2 separate regions of the Homo sapiens genome follow, and region 1 is linked to region 2. Evidence: fine-mapped QTL for protein levels in blood plasma. Region 2 holds a variant in brackets. A gene starts in the other region. All regions are shown on their forward strands.

Region 1 (5,361 bases), not on the chromosome of region 2:
TCACAAAGTCATGTTTTCTATTTTATAGAGTAAAAATATCAAAAAATAACAAGAGACTTTGAAAAGAACATTCAAACAACAAAATAGATTTTGTAAATTAAAAATACCATTACATAAATAAAAACTTCAGTGGAATATTAGGAAAATAAAAAAGTGCCTTTGAGCACTTTGAAAACTTTGCAGACGACCAAGGCTGCATGCAACCTGAAGTTACAGACAACACAGAACTTTTCATATTCTACAATAAATGTTTCCAATTAAATTCTAGATGTCATGCTATAGATAAAACTGTAAAATATCCAGGACTTTCCGTCCAGAAGTTCACAATTTTATAAACAAAAAAAAAATTAAAGGACATACTCACCTGAATATTCTATAACTGGTCTGAACAGTGCTTGCAGGAAAATTCATGCATTTGGCTCAGGAGTTGGGTGTCCCCTGGGCTTTCTGGATAACAGATGTTATTCTCTGAGATTTCCACAGTCTAGCAAATTCCAAATGCCTCTATAAATAATAAGCCTTGCTTTTTGGAGGCCAATGTATTATAGGATCCTTAAATCCCCTCCCTTATTAGGTTTCTGCAGTACAGAGGACCAATGAAAGGATTTACCCTTCCACCATTGTTTACATCAACTCAATTTCTAATCTCTGTAAATAGCCCTCTACAAACACCCTCTAGTTGTGGTTAGTGCTGGTTTATCTTGTCATTTATTTATTTATTTATTTATTTATTTATTTATTTATTTAGAGAGGGAGTCACCCTCTGTCATCCAGGCTGGAGTGCAATGGCATGATCTCGGCTCACCACAACCTCTGCCTCCCAGGTTCAAGGGATTCTCCTGTCTCAGCCTCCCGAGTTGTTCAGATTACAGGCATGTGCCACCAGGCCCGGCTGATTTTGTATTTTTAGTAGAGGCAGAGTTTCACCATGTTGGCCAGGCTGGTCTCAGACTCCTGACCTCCAGTGATCTGCCCGCCTTGGCCTCCCAAAGTGCTGGAATCACAGGTGTGAGCCACCATGCCTGGCTTTTGTCATTGATTATTAAACAACACCCACGTGGCAAATTCATGTTTGATTTTTTGGGGCCCCAAGTCTACTTTCATTTCTGCTCCCACATCTGATAGTATTTTTATATGATATTTGAATACATCATTCCATTCTTTGATAATTTCTGCCCTTTCTTCACTGAAATCTAGGATCTGCTACCATCTCACCTGGCTCATCGACATGTAAATCCCTTCAGTACTGATCAATTTCTACCAGTCTTTAGATTTGAAGACCAAAATGCTAATGACCATGATGGATGGTTTTGGAAAAAGACAAGTAGAGCCTCAATGTCTGGCACCTATGGCTGATTTAATTTTAAACTCAGGGAAATGAAATAGGTACTGTGCATAAAAAATATTCAGGTGATTTTATTTAAAGCATTTTTACTAAATTCAAACTAATCAAAAAAACCTTTATTTAAATGACAACTTATTTCAATAATTTTTAAATTTTCATTTTTAATCAATATATAAAAATTGCACATATGTATGACATACGATATAATATTTTGATACATGTATAAATTGTGCATTGATCAAATTAGGGTTTGACAACCTCAGGCTTCATAATTTATGAAATAGACCTCTGCCATTTAAAAACTTTATATCTAAACTTACCAACTAGTAATTAACTGAACATATCAAATAAGATATTATTTAAAAGAGCCTAAATTAATAAAATGTTTAAATACATTTTGAGCTTTAAAATACAATAAATAAATATGACTTATTTTAGAAAAATTTTTTTAAAAAATAGACAAAGGTGGATATAGACAAAAACATGTACAGAAAAATATCAAAAGGACTAAACCCCTTGGAGATTTTAATGGTAAAAGCTTGCTGATATTATTTTTAAAATTATCAACTTTTAAAAAAACATTTTATGGCCATTTGTTAATGAGCATAAGCTTCTACTGAAAATGAAATATTTGCTTCTATAAGAATATACTCTCAGATATTGTATGAGAATATACTGCAGCATTGTATGAGAGGCAAAAAACTAGAAGCCTTTGGAATATTCATCATGGGAGAATGGCTGGGCACATTAACGTACATTCACAGTAGGGAATATTCTGCAGCCATCACGTAAGTTAAGATCTAGATGTATTGATCTGAAGGGACATCTACAAAATATATATATTTTTTGAGCCGGAGTCTTGCTCTGTCGCCCAGGCTGGAGTGCAATGATGTGATCTTGGCTCACTGCAACCTCTGCCTCCCGGGTGCAAGTGATTCTCCTGCCTCGGTCTCCCACGTAGCTGGGATTACAGGCGCCCACCACCGCTCCCAGCTAATTTTTGTATTTTTAGTAGAGACAGGGTTTCGCCATGTCGGCCAAGCTGGTTTTGAACTCCTGACCTCAGGTGATCTGCCTGCCTCAGCCTCCCAAAGTGCTAGGATTACAGGTGTGAGCCACCGCACCCAGCCTACAAAATATTTTTTAATGAAAGAAGCAACTAACTAAAACTTTGTATAGTAGTTATGTTTTTATATTTTATATTCATATATGCAGTGATGCTCAATGGGAATTTTGCAAATCCAGGGGGCATGTGGCAATGGCTGAAGATATTTTTGGTTATCATGTCAGGGAGGTGCTAATGACATAGGGTTAAATCCTACAATGCACAACCTCCCTCAAAGAATTATCAACCCAAGATGTCAGTTGTGCTGAGCTTGAGAAACTCTGTCATAGGGAAAGGAAAAAAAGGATAAGCACCAAACTGCTAGCTTGTTCCTTATATATCTGTGCTGTTCAACTTATAATGTACATTTATTTTGACAACTGAAAATTATCCTATAAAAATAAGTTTATTGTGCTGGCAAAGACAATGATAGAGCAGAGGTGGCAGACTGTTCCCCAAGCCAACTGTTTCCAAAGGAGACCTGAGGGACTGGGTGTGAGTTGACAGTGGTGGGAGCTGGAAGCAGCAAGGGATGCGGGGACATCTGGGGAGCCTGGACCTGACCTTGGAGCTCACTCACACAATCTAAATAATCCCAGAGTGAGGCTGAGGTTTTCCTGAGTTGGATGAGGGCCTGCGAAAATTTCCTATTATTAGGCAAGCCTACTATGAGAGTGAGAAGCCTAAACTCAATTTCCATTTTATAGCCTGGAGTAAACCACTTCTGGTCAGGCAGCAGGGAATCATAACATATCAGAGCTGAATACCTCACTGGTTTGCTGAGGGGCAAGTTAGTAGGTGTTCCTCAGAAAGGATTTTGTGGTCAATTAAGACAGGGAAACTCTGGCTTAAACTGCAGGTAAATTAAATAAGAGGTCTTTACTGCAAGCCTAATCAGAGCCTTTATTATGCTAGTGTCCATCTCCAAAAGGGTGGTCATCAAATGCAGGCCCTCCCTGTCTTGACCAAGTCCTTTTTCTTGAGATCATGTCTTGAGACTTGGATGCCATGCAATACACTTTGGGAAATACTAACCTAGTTGAACGACAGTTTTACTGATGTAGAAATGGCGGCCCAAAGGATAAAAAGTAGCTGAACTAGCTGGTGGGGCTACTTTCCAGACCAATGCTTTTTTCTCCTGCCTAAGACCTTAACCACAGTTGCAAATTAACTACAGATCCTCAGAATTTTCGCCCAATTCAACTTGGAGGGGTTGCAGTGGAGGTGAGGGAGAAGGGAGTAACAGTGAAGCCATTCAAAGCAAAAACCACCTTTAAAGAAATTTTGGCCTTAGAATACAGGGTTTTTTTTTTTTTTTTTTTAATTGGTGGAGGGGGCACCCAGGAAGACCAGACGTGCTCCTGTGAAGCAACGCTCCACCACGTCCTTTTGAAAATACCGTAGCCTGCATGAGACAGGCGGGAGCACCTAAGCCTTCAACTCTCCCCATGTTGCCTCCAATTGACCTCACTGGGCCAGGAAAAGCCCTATAAACTGGTTTTGTATACTCTATCCAAGTAGTAAATTTACTAAAATTACTGGATCCTACTATATACCAGACCTCTGCAAGGCATTGAAGATTCAATGATGAGCATTAATTCCCACTCTAAGGGGATTTTTCTATCTGGTAGGGAAACTCAGATACCGCATGCAGCTAGCCTGTCACAGGGCTATACTGACTAAAGCTCACCCTAAGAAATTTGCACATCTTAGCCTATGGGCAACGGGAAGCCATGGACGGAATATGTTTTCCGTTTCAAACAAGGAACTCCAGTCACAGCAGGCTCTAACTCCATTTCCTATTATCAACTCCCCTTCCTGCTCCTCCTCCCTTAGTAGCCTCGAAAAAGAGTGGCCACTTCCTTCACATCACCAGGGCCTTGGTCCTGGTAGGGGGTCCCGCCCCCGGCCCTGTCCTCCTCCCCAGGCCGGGACCTCCGCGCCTCCCACACACAGTACAACTCTAACACGAAACTGGGCCAGGACTGCAGGTAGGTCCCGTCCAATGCGACACGCTCGCGACGGCCCACGCACTGCCAGAACCAGCCCTGCCACTAACCAGCCTAGTAAGGAACGCAGTGATCTTTAGGAGCCCACTTCTAAATTCAAATCATTTGGGGTTCAGTAAGTCTCTTCACAGACGGGGACCTAATAGCTTCCATTAGCAGCCTCCACGTTTGCTGAACACGACTACGGGGCCAGACCCACAGGAACTCCAATGTGGTTCAGCCGCTCAACTCCAGGGACCAAAAAGACTTTCCCACCTCCCAGCGTTATTAAAGGCAACCCCGCCCCCAAGCCTCAGCCACTACGCGGTGCAGAAAGAGGCAGAGCTGGGCATGCGCAATTTCCGCCCCCGCCACAGTCTTGGGAGTGGGCGGGCTCGAGGGCTGGGAGGAAGCCGAAAGCTGACCGAGAGGAGAAAGAAGCCCGCCCCCGGAAGTCCCTCCTGTCTCTGCAGCTTGTTCCCGGAAGTTTTGCTGCTAGTCGCGGACGCAATGGCTTCAAGGTTACTTCGCGGAGCTGGAACGCTGGCCGCGCAGGCCCTGAGGGCTCGCGGCCCCAGTGGCGCGGCCGCGATGCGCTCCATGGCATCTGGAGGTACTCGGGTCTCCGGGCGTGCCAGGGACCAGAGTGTTGCCCTCCCAGGGTGGTCCCAGGGCGGCAAAGCGGCGCGGCTCGTGCAGCTTCTCGAGGTCCCAGTGGCCGCTTTACGGTCCCCAGTGCCTCAGGCTCTGCAGGCATCTCCCTGTAATTCTGGACCGCTGCTCCTGCCGCTCCCCGAACTCACTCCGCTGCGAAAGTATCCTAAACGGAGGTGCCGGGTGACCTTGGGAGGGACCGGGGCTGCCACCGGGATGGGGAGGGGTCCGGCCTCCCTTCAAACCTGCGCCCACCTCAAGCAGAGTGG
Region 2 (5,381 bases):
TCTTAAACAATGTTATTGTTCATCTAACCTACTACAAATAAGTCGAATAAATTATGTAGATGATTGACTCAGGTTTCTTGGAATCCATTATGAGAAAAAAAATTGGTTTTCAAACTTTTCATTAAAAACAATTATAAAAATAAGTGACCCAAAATGCTTACTATAAGCTAAAATTAGATTTAGTGTGTTTCATCATCCAAAGATATAGGAAATAAATAGTGAGAGTCTTTCACTGGCTGATAATCCGGGGGGGTCTTAGGCCCAGGGACATCCATTCCAAGAACTCACAGGGACATTATTTAGAGTTTTCAGCTAGTAGAGGATCCAGACAGCATCTGAAAAGTTCTGACAATAAGAGTCTCTTGAGATTTGAGAAAGAGCCTGAAGCCTGTCCTCTGTGACCCAGCTCCCGCCAAATGGTACAGTCTGCTCATTCTACCAGAGAGCAAAAGACATCAAGAAAGAGGACTCAACACTCCATGCATGGTGCTGACCCTTCTCCAGGGCTGCTCCTCTGCTCACAAAACATACCACTTGCTAATAGAGAATGAAATAAAATAGCATGAGTTTTTCCTGACGATTCCCAAGGCCCATTCTTCTTAAGACTACAAGGAAGAACTTCGACATTTGGAATGAGATGATGAAATACCACAGAAATAGATCATCTGGGACAGAAGGCCGCCTAAAGTGCATCCTCACAAATAATAATAATAATAATGATGATAATGAGATAACATGTATTATCCACTATGTATCCACATTCTAGATATTAGCTTTAATTCTTAAAATAACACTATAATGTCAGTATTATGCTCACCATTTTATAAGTGAGGAAACTAACATTTAGAGAAATTGAATCCCTCCACATCACAGCTCTACGGAGAAAGATCTGGATGGGATCCAGGTACAAGTCATCAGTTGCAGTCCTTTGTAAGATGCGAACATGAAGTATGCGTAAGGGGTAGGAGCAGTGGAAGCACAGCTTTAGAGTCAGACAACTGGATTTGAATCCTAGTTCCAAATCTCACTAGCTGTGTGAGCTTGGGTAAGTTACTTAACTTCTCCAAACTTTGGTTTCCATACATCTTAAATACAAATAATAATGCCTGCTTCATAGGGTTGCTATAAACATTAAAGGAATACTCCATAAGCATTCACTTTTCACCTCTCCATGTCTTCTCTTTTCTCATAAAAGTTTGCATAGCATAATACCTCCTTTGTGGAGTTACAGTGAGCACAAAAGAAGTAGGATAAAAAGAGAGAGATATTAGTTACATGGGAGATAGTATTATTTTAAGAAGAAACCACTTTCTTTGTAAAGTGACATTTTGGTGCAATTATGTTTTAAATGTATATTCTAAAAGGAAAAGGATATGATTCCATCAAAAATTAAAAACAGGCATGGATGGGATGGGCTGTTTAATGCACCTGTAGGTTATGAAACCAAATAATTGTTGATGTCAGAATAATAACCTCTCCAGCACAGAGACAATAGCAACAACCAATAATTGAGGATACAGTGTTCCAAAAAAGTCACCAACTCACCCCAGTTTGCCAGGGATTTAATTGATTTGAGCACAAAGTGTCCCTTGTTCCAAAAGATCCCCATCAGTCCCAGGCAGATCTGGTTGACTGGTCACACTAAGTGTGCTAAGCATTCATCTGGGTTTTTTGCTTACTCTATCTCTCATTTTCACAAAAACTCTGTGAAACAGGCTGCCCTGACAGAGGCAGTACCCCCCCACCCCCAAATGGAATACCTTGTTTCTCTATAAAAACAGTTGTCATTACAAATAAAGTCAGCAAATCACCTCAAAGCAGATGCTTTTTGTTCTGTAAGAATCTCTTAGCTATGCAGCTATAGAGTAAGTAGGTCCACTCATCCTCTTGAGTTGAGCTGCATGAAATTTTTAAATTCTCACCCTTTGGAGTGGAGCCGCTCACAAGGAGGAAGGAGACAAGGTAATACTGCATTATTGAGCTGACAAAGGCTGGAACAGTCTGGATCCAGCCATCCTGGACCAGTGTCTGCCCCAGGAAGTGGCTGTGGATGTGACCTATAAGGAGCTGTAGCAGCCAGAGTACAGGCCTAACAGGTGTGAAGAGCCTTCTACAGCATGCAGGATCCTGGACAACAAAGCCCCTTCCCTCAAAGCATGGCTGCAAAGGGCTCTGCCTCTGCACCTGCTATAGCAGCTGGAACAGAGGACCTGCTTCCCACTGTGGTCTAGGCCTGATTATCAGGGCAGCCATACCAGCACAGGCCATCCAGCCACCATCCAGCTGGAAAGTCGCAGCAGCCTACCCAATTCCTGAGTCACTTCCCACTCTTAG[C/T]AGTGCCATTGTTATGGCATGCTCTTCACATATGGGTGGCCCAGTCTCCCGTGAAAGAGGCAGGATGAAGGAATGGATGGGACTTTAAACTGCATGGCTCTAATCCTAAAAAGAGAGAACATCCAACCCAAAACCAACACTATCTCCAGGAAAAGACACCATCCATCTACCTGAGTTTACTATGTGAGCCAGAGACCTCCCCCAGCCCATGCTTTAGCCTGACAGACCAGCCCACTCTCTTTTGCCATAAACAGCTGTCAGAAACAAGACTATGCTAGACAGGACTCCTTCCCTCAAGGGAGATGGCTGGGGCAGCCTTTGAAAGGAATCGCCTCCTGATTTTCCACCACCACAGCAGGTGAGTTCCCAGTTATTAGCTTCTGAGGATGAACAGGGCATGTTATAAGCATTCCAAGCTGTGAGAGATAATGTGGGTGTTCTCTGCATCTTACCCAGAGAAGTAAACTGACTGGCCAAACGTCACACAGCCTCTAAGGCTAAGTAAGGATGTAAATTCAAGTCTAAGTCTACGCAGGACACTCTGCCATTCCAGCCTGCCTTCCCAAGACACCACAGAAGACGATGAAACAGTTAACCAAGTATTTAAAGGGAAGGAGAAAATTTCCCCCTTAACATGGAAAATTAAACCCTACTGAGTGATGAGAAATCAATCCTGAAAATTCCTCCTGAAAGCACATTTGTGGATATGCCAAAGCTATGGACATAATGACTCTCACTCTTCTGCTAGCTACAGAGCAAAGAGTGGTCTCCTCCCCAGACAAAGAGACACAAAAGCATAGAGACTGGTAGTATTTGGAGTGTTAAGAAAGCCAGTTAAGCCCTTCTGTGAGATAACTCATAGAAATGCTATCCAAGAATCCAAAAAGAAAACATGCCTTTTGGAAACTCTTTGAAATCAAGCTGTAAAACCCGTAAATATCAGAGTCAGATCTTCTAATACAACCTAAGGGGATTCTGACTTGAAGAAATGGCTCAGGTTATATTTAAAGGTTTTATTTTATTTAAGATCAAGAGGAGACCAAAGATAGGTGAAGAACTGATTTTTGGTCATCTGAAGATAAACAGAAAGTCACTTAATGACACTCAGACATTTGCATTGCTGTCAATCTTTTCTCCATATGATGTATACCATTTTACTTAGAATAGTGATCAATTAGTAATTTTGATTCTGTGTTCATGTAATAAAGGATTTTATTTTGACAGTCGATATAAAGCACCTGTTGTAGCTATATTTTCATGTGACTGCTCCACTGGGAGTTGCTGCTTGCTTGCATCACAGCCCAGGTACCACCTGCTCTTGTAGCTGACCCAAATCGTGGAGGTAAAGCCTAGCAAGAGATAACCTCAGCCTCACACACTCAAATCTATAGAGTGATAGAACAGCTGAAACATACAATCCCTTTGTTGTTTTCCTTAGCTCTCCTTTCTTTGATGTCATTCTTGATCATTTATTTTCCCATGTCTTTCCCTCATGCTCCACTGCATGGCTATCAATGCTTGGAAAATGTTACGTTGAAAATAAACTCATTTATCAAGTTGCTAGTTTTACAGGCAGCTCCATCTATATCATGTATGCTCAATTACTTAAGCATACAGTAATTGACATCTTAAGCATCCTTAAGACAATGCAGTACTTCTGTACTGACACAGTGCAGATTCTGCTCAGCATTCCCCTGTCTCTTAGACTTCCTTCCCATATCGGATTTGCACAATTCATCCCAACACTTGCTGAAAACTTTTCTAGTACTGACATTTTCAACTCTTGTTTACATTGGCAATTACACAATCAAAGCAGCCTCAACAGCAAAAATCTACCACAAGAGCTGGAGACATTTAAGAACAGTATTACTGATTGCTAAATTCTAATGCATATATTTTAAAAGTGTATTTATAAGTTAAGTGCTTTGGTTATCATGTTTCTCCATTACAAAAGTGCCAAAGAAACAAGAAGTAATTTCTCACACAATATTTATTTCATAACTGAGTTAAATAAGTATTGTTTTGAGTGGAAACTCAATAACCTTGTTAGAAATTCTGAGGGAGCTGCAGATTCATGACAATGAATAGTTAATTGTCCAATTATTCAGTAAAGCTCAAACACTTAATAACACAACGGACAGAATAAGTCAGAAAGGCAAGAAGCTTGGGGTGAAACCCAGCTTTGCTGGAGCTGGTGCTTGCATTACCAGATGGTGTGCCTATGCACATACGAAAACAGAAAGACAAACAGCAAGGAGGCAAATGGAAACAGATGACTTCCTATTAGTCCTCTGTTGAGCCTTCATCAACCTGACTTCCTTATTTGATTTGAAGTGGTGTGTCCTCCCAAATCACTGAACAAGCCCATTCAAATGCATGCAGAAGTATCAAAGGGGAACGAAGTATGTAAAGTTTTCTATTGTTAGTCACTTTGGAAAACTTCTCATAAATTAGTACTGCTGGAGCAATTAATTGAACTCCAAATGTATTATTTCTTACCCACTTTTAACTTTCCTTAACTAGAGCTCTCAATAGTGCTGTCAATTATTTTTAATTTTTGATAGAGATTAGACAATATATTCTATTATTTTGATGTGCCTTTAATTGTGTGATTAAAATACTGGTGAAAACCAATTACTTAACTAGAAACCTGATATTTTAGGGTCGTTTAAACCCTATACCAATATGATAGTACTTTAAGTTTATTTTTTGCAGAATATGTTCTAGAACTCAGAACTTTTAGTCTTGGTAAAGTTGTTTTGTTTTGTTTTTAACTAAGCTTTTGTATTTCTCAAATATTTAGTCCCCTACAACAAATTTAGGTCTAGCCACCCCAACAAAGTATCATGCAACCTCTTTGAACCATCTAAGATAATCTATTTTAAATTGCATCTCAAATACCATGACCCATCAAAGTCATAGTTCAGTGAACAAATCTAATACATTCTCAATAAATCACTTATATAAGGTATATTCAATGAATTTTGATTTATTTCTTTACAAAACAAAAAACCACAAACAAGCAAACAACAGTAGCTTCTAAAAAC

Which allele goes with the higher level. Alleles are on the strand shown, and positions count from the first base shown. The strength of an association depends on the size of the effect and on how common the allele is.
In carriers of allele T in region 2, the plasma level of the protein whose gene starts at base 4,924 in region 1 tends to be lower than with C alone (weak association).

The links. PIP is the posterior inclusion probability: the model's chance that the variant is causal. The UK Biobank Pharma Proteomics Project read protein levels with antibody pairs (Olink). The fine-mapping took linkage between variants from a reference panel, not from the people measured, so its PIPs are less certain.
Region 1: it holds the start of COX5B, and the variant in region 2 is fine-mapped to the plasma level of the COX5B protein (UK Biobank, PIP above 0.99).

What each region holds. Positions count from the first base shown.
Region 1 is chr2:97,641,139-97,646,499 of GRCh38, forward strand. It overlaps COX5B (cytochrome c oxidase subunit 5B), which reads left to right and starts at 4,924. Exons shown (of 4, transcript NM_001862.3): 1 at 4,924-5,051. The coding sequence starts at 4,949. RefSeq lists enhancers at 3,882-4,816, 4,619-4,668, 4,849-5,028.
Region 2 is chr4:47,646,812-47,652,192 of GRCh38, forward strand. All of the region lies in intron 13 of CORIN (corin, serine peptidase), which reads right to left. Among named protein-coding and RNA genes, the nearest start is that of MIR8053, 3.2 kb to the right of the region's middle. RefSeq lists an enhancer at 4,374-4,917. The variant C/T (reference allele first, on the strand shown) is at 2,335.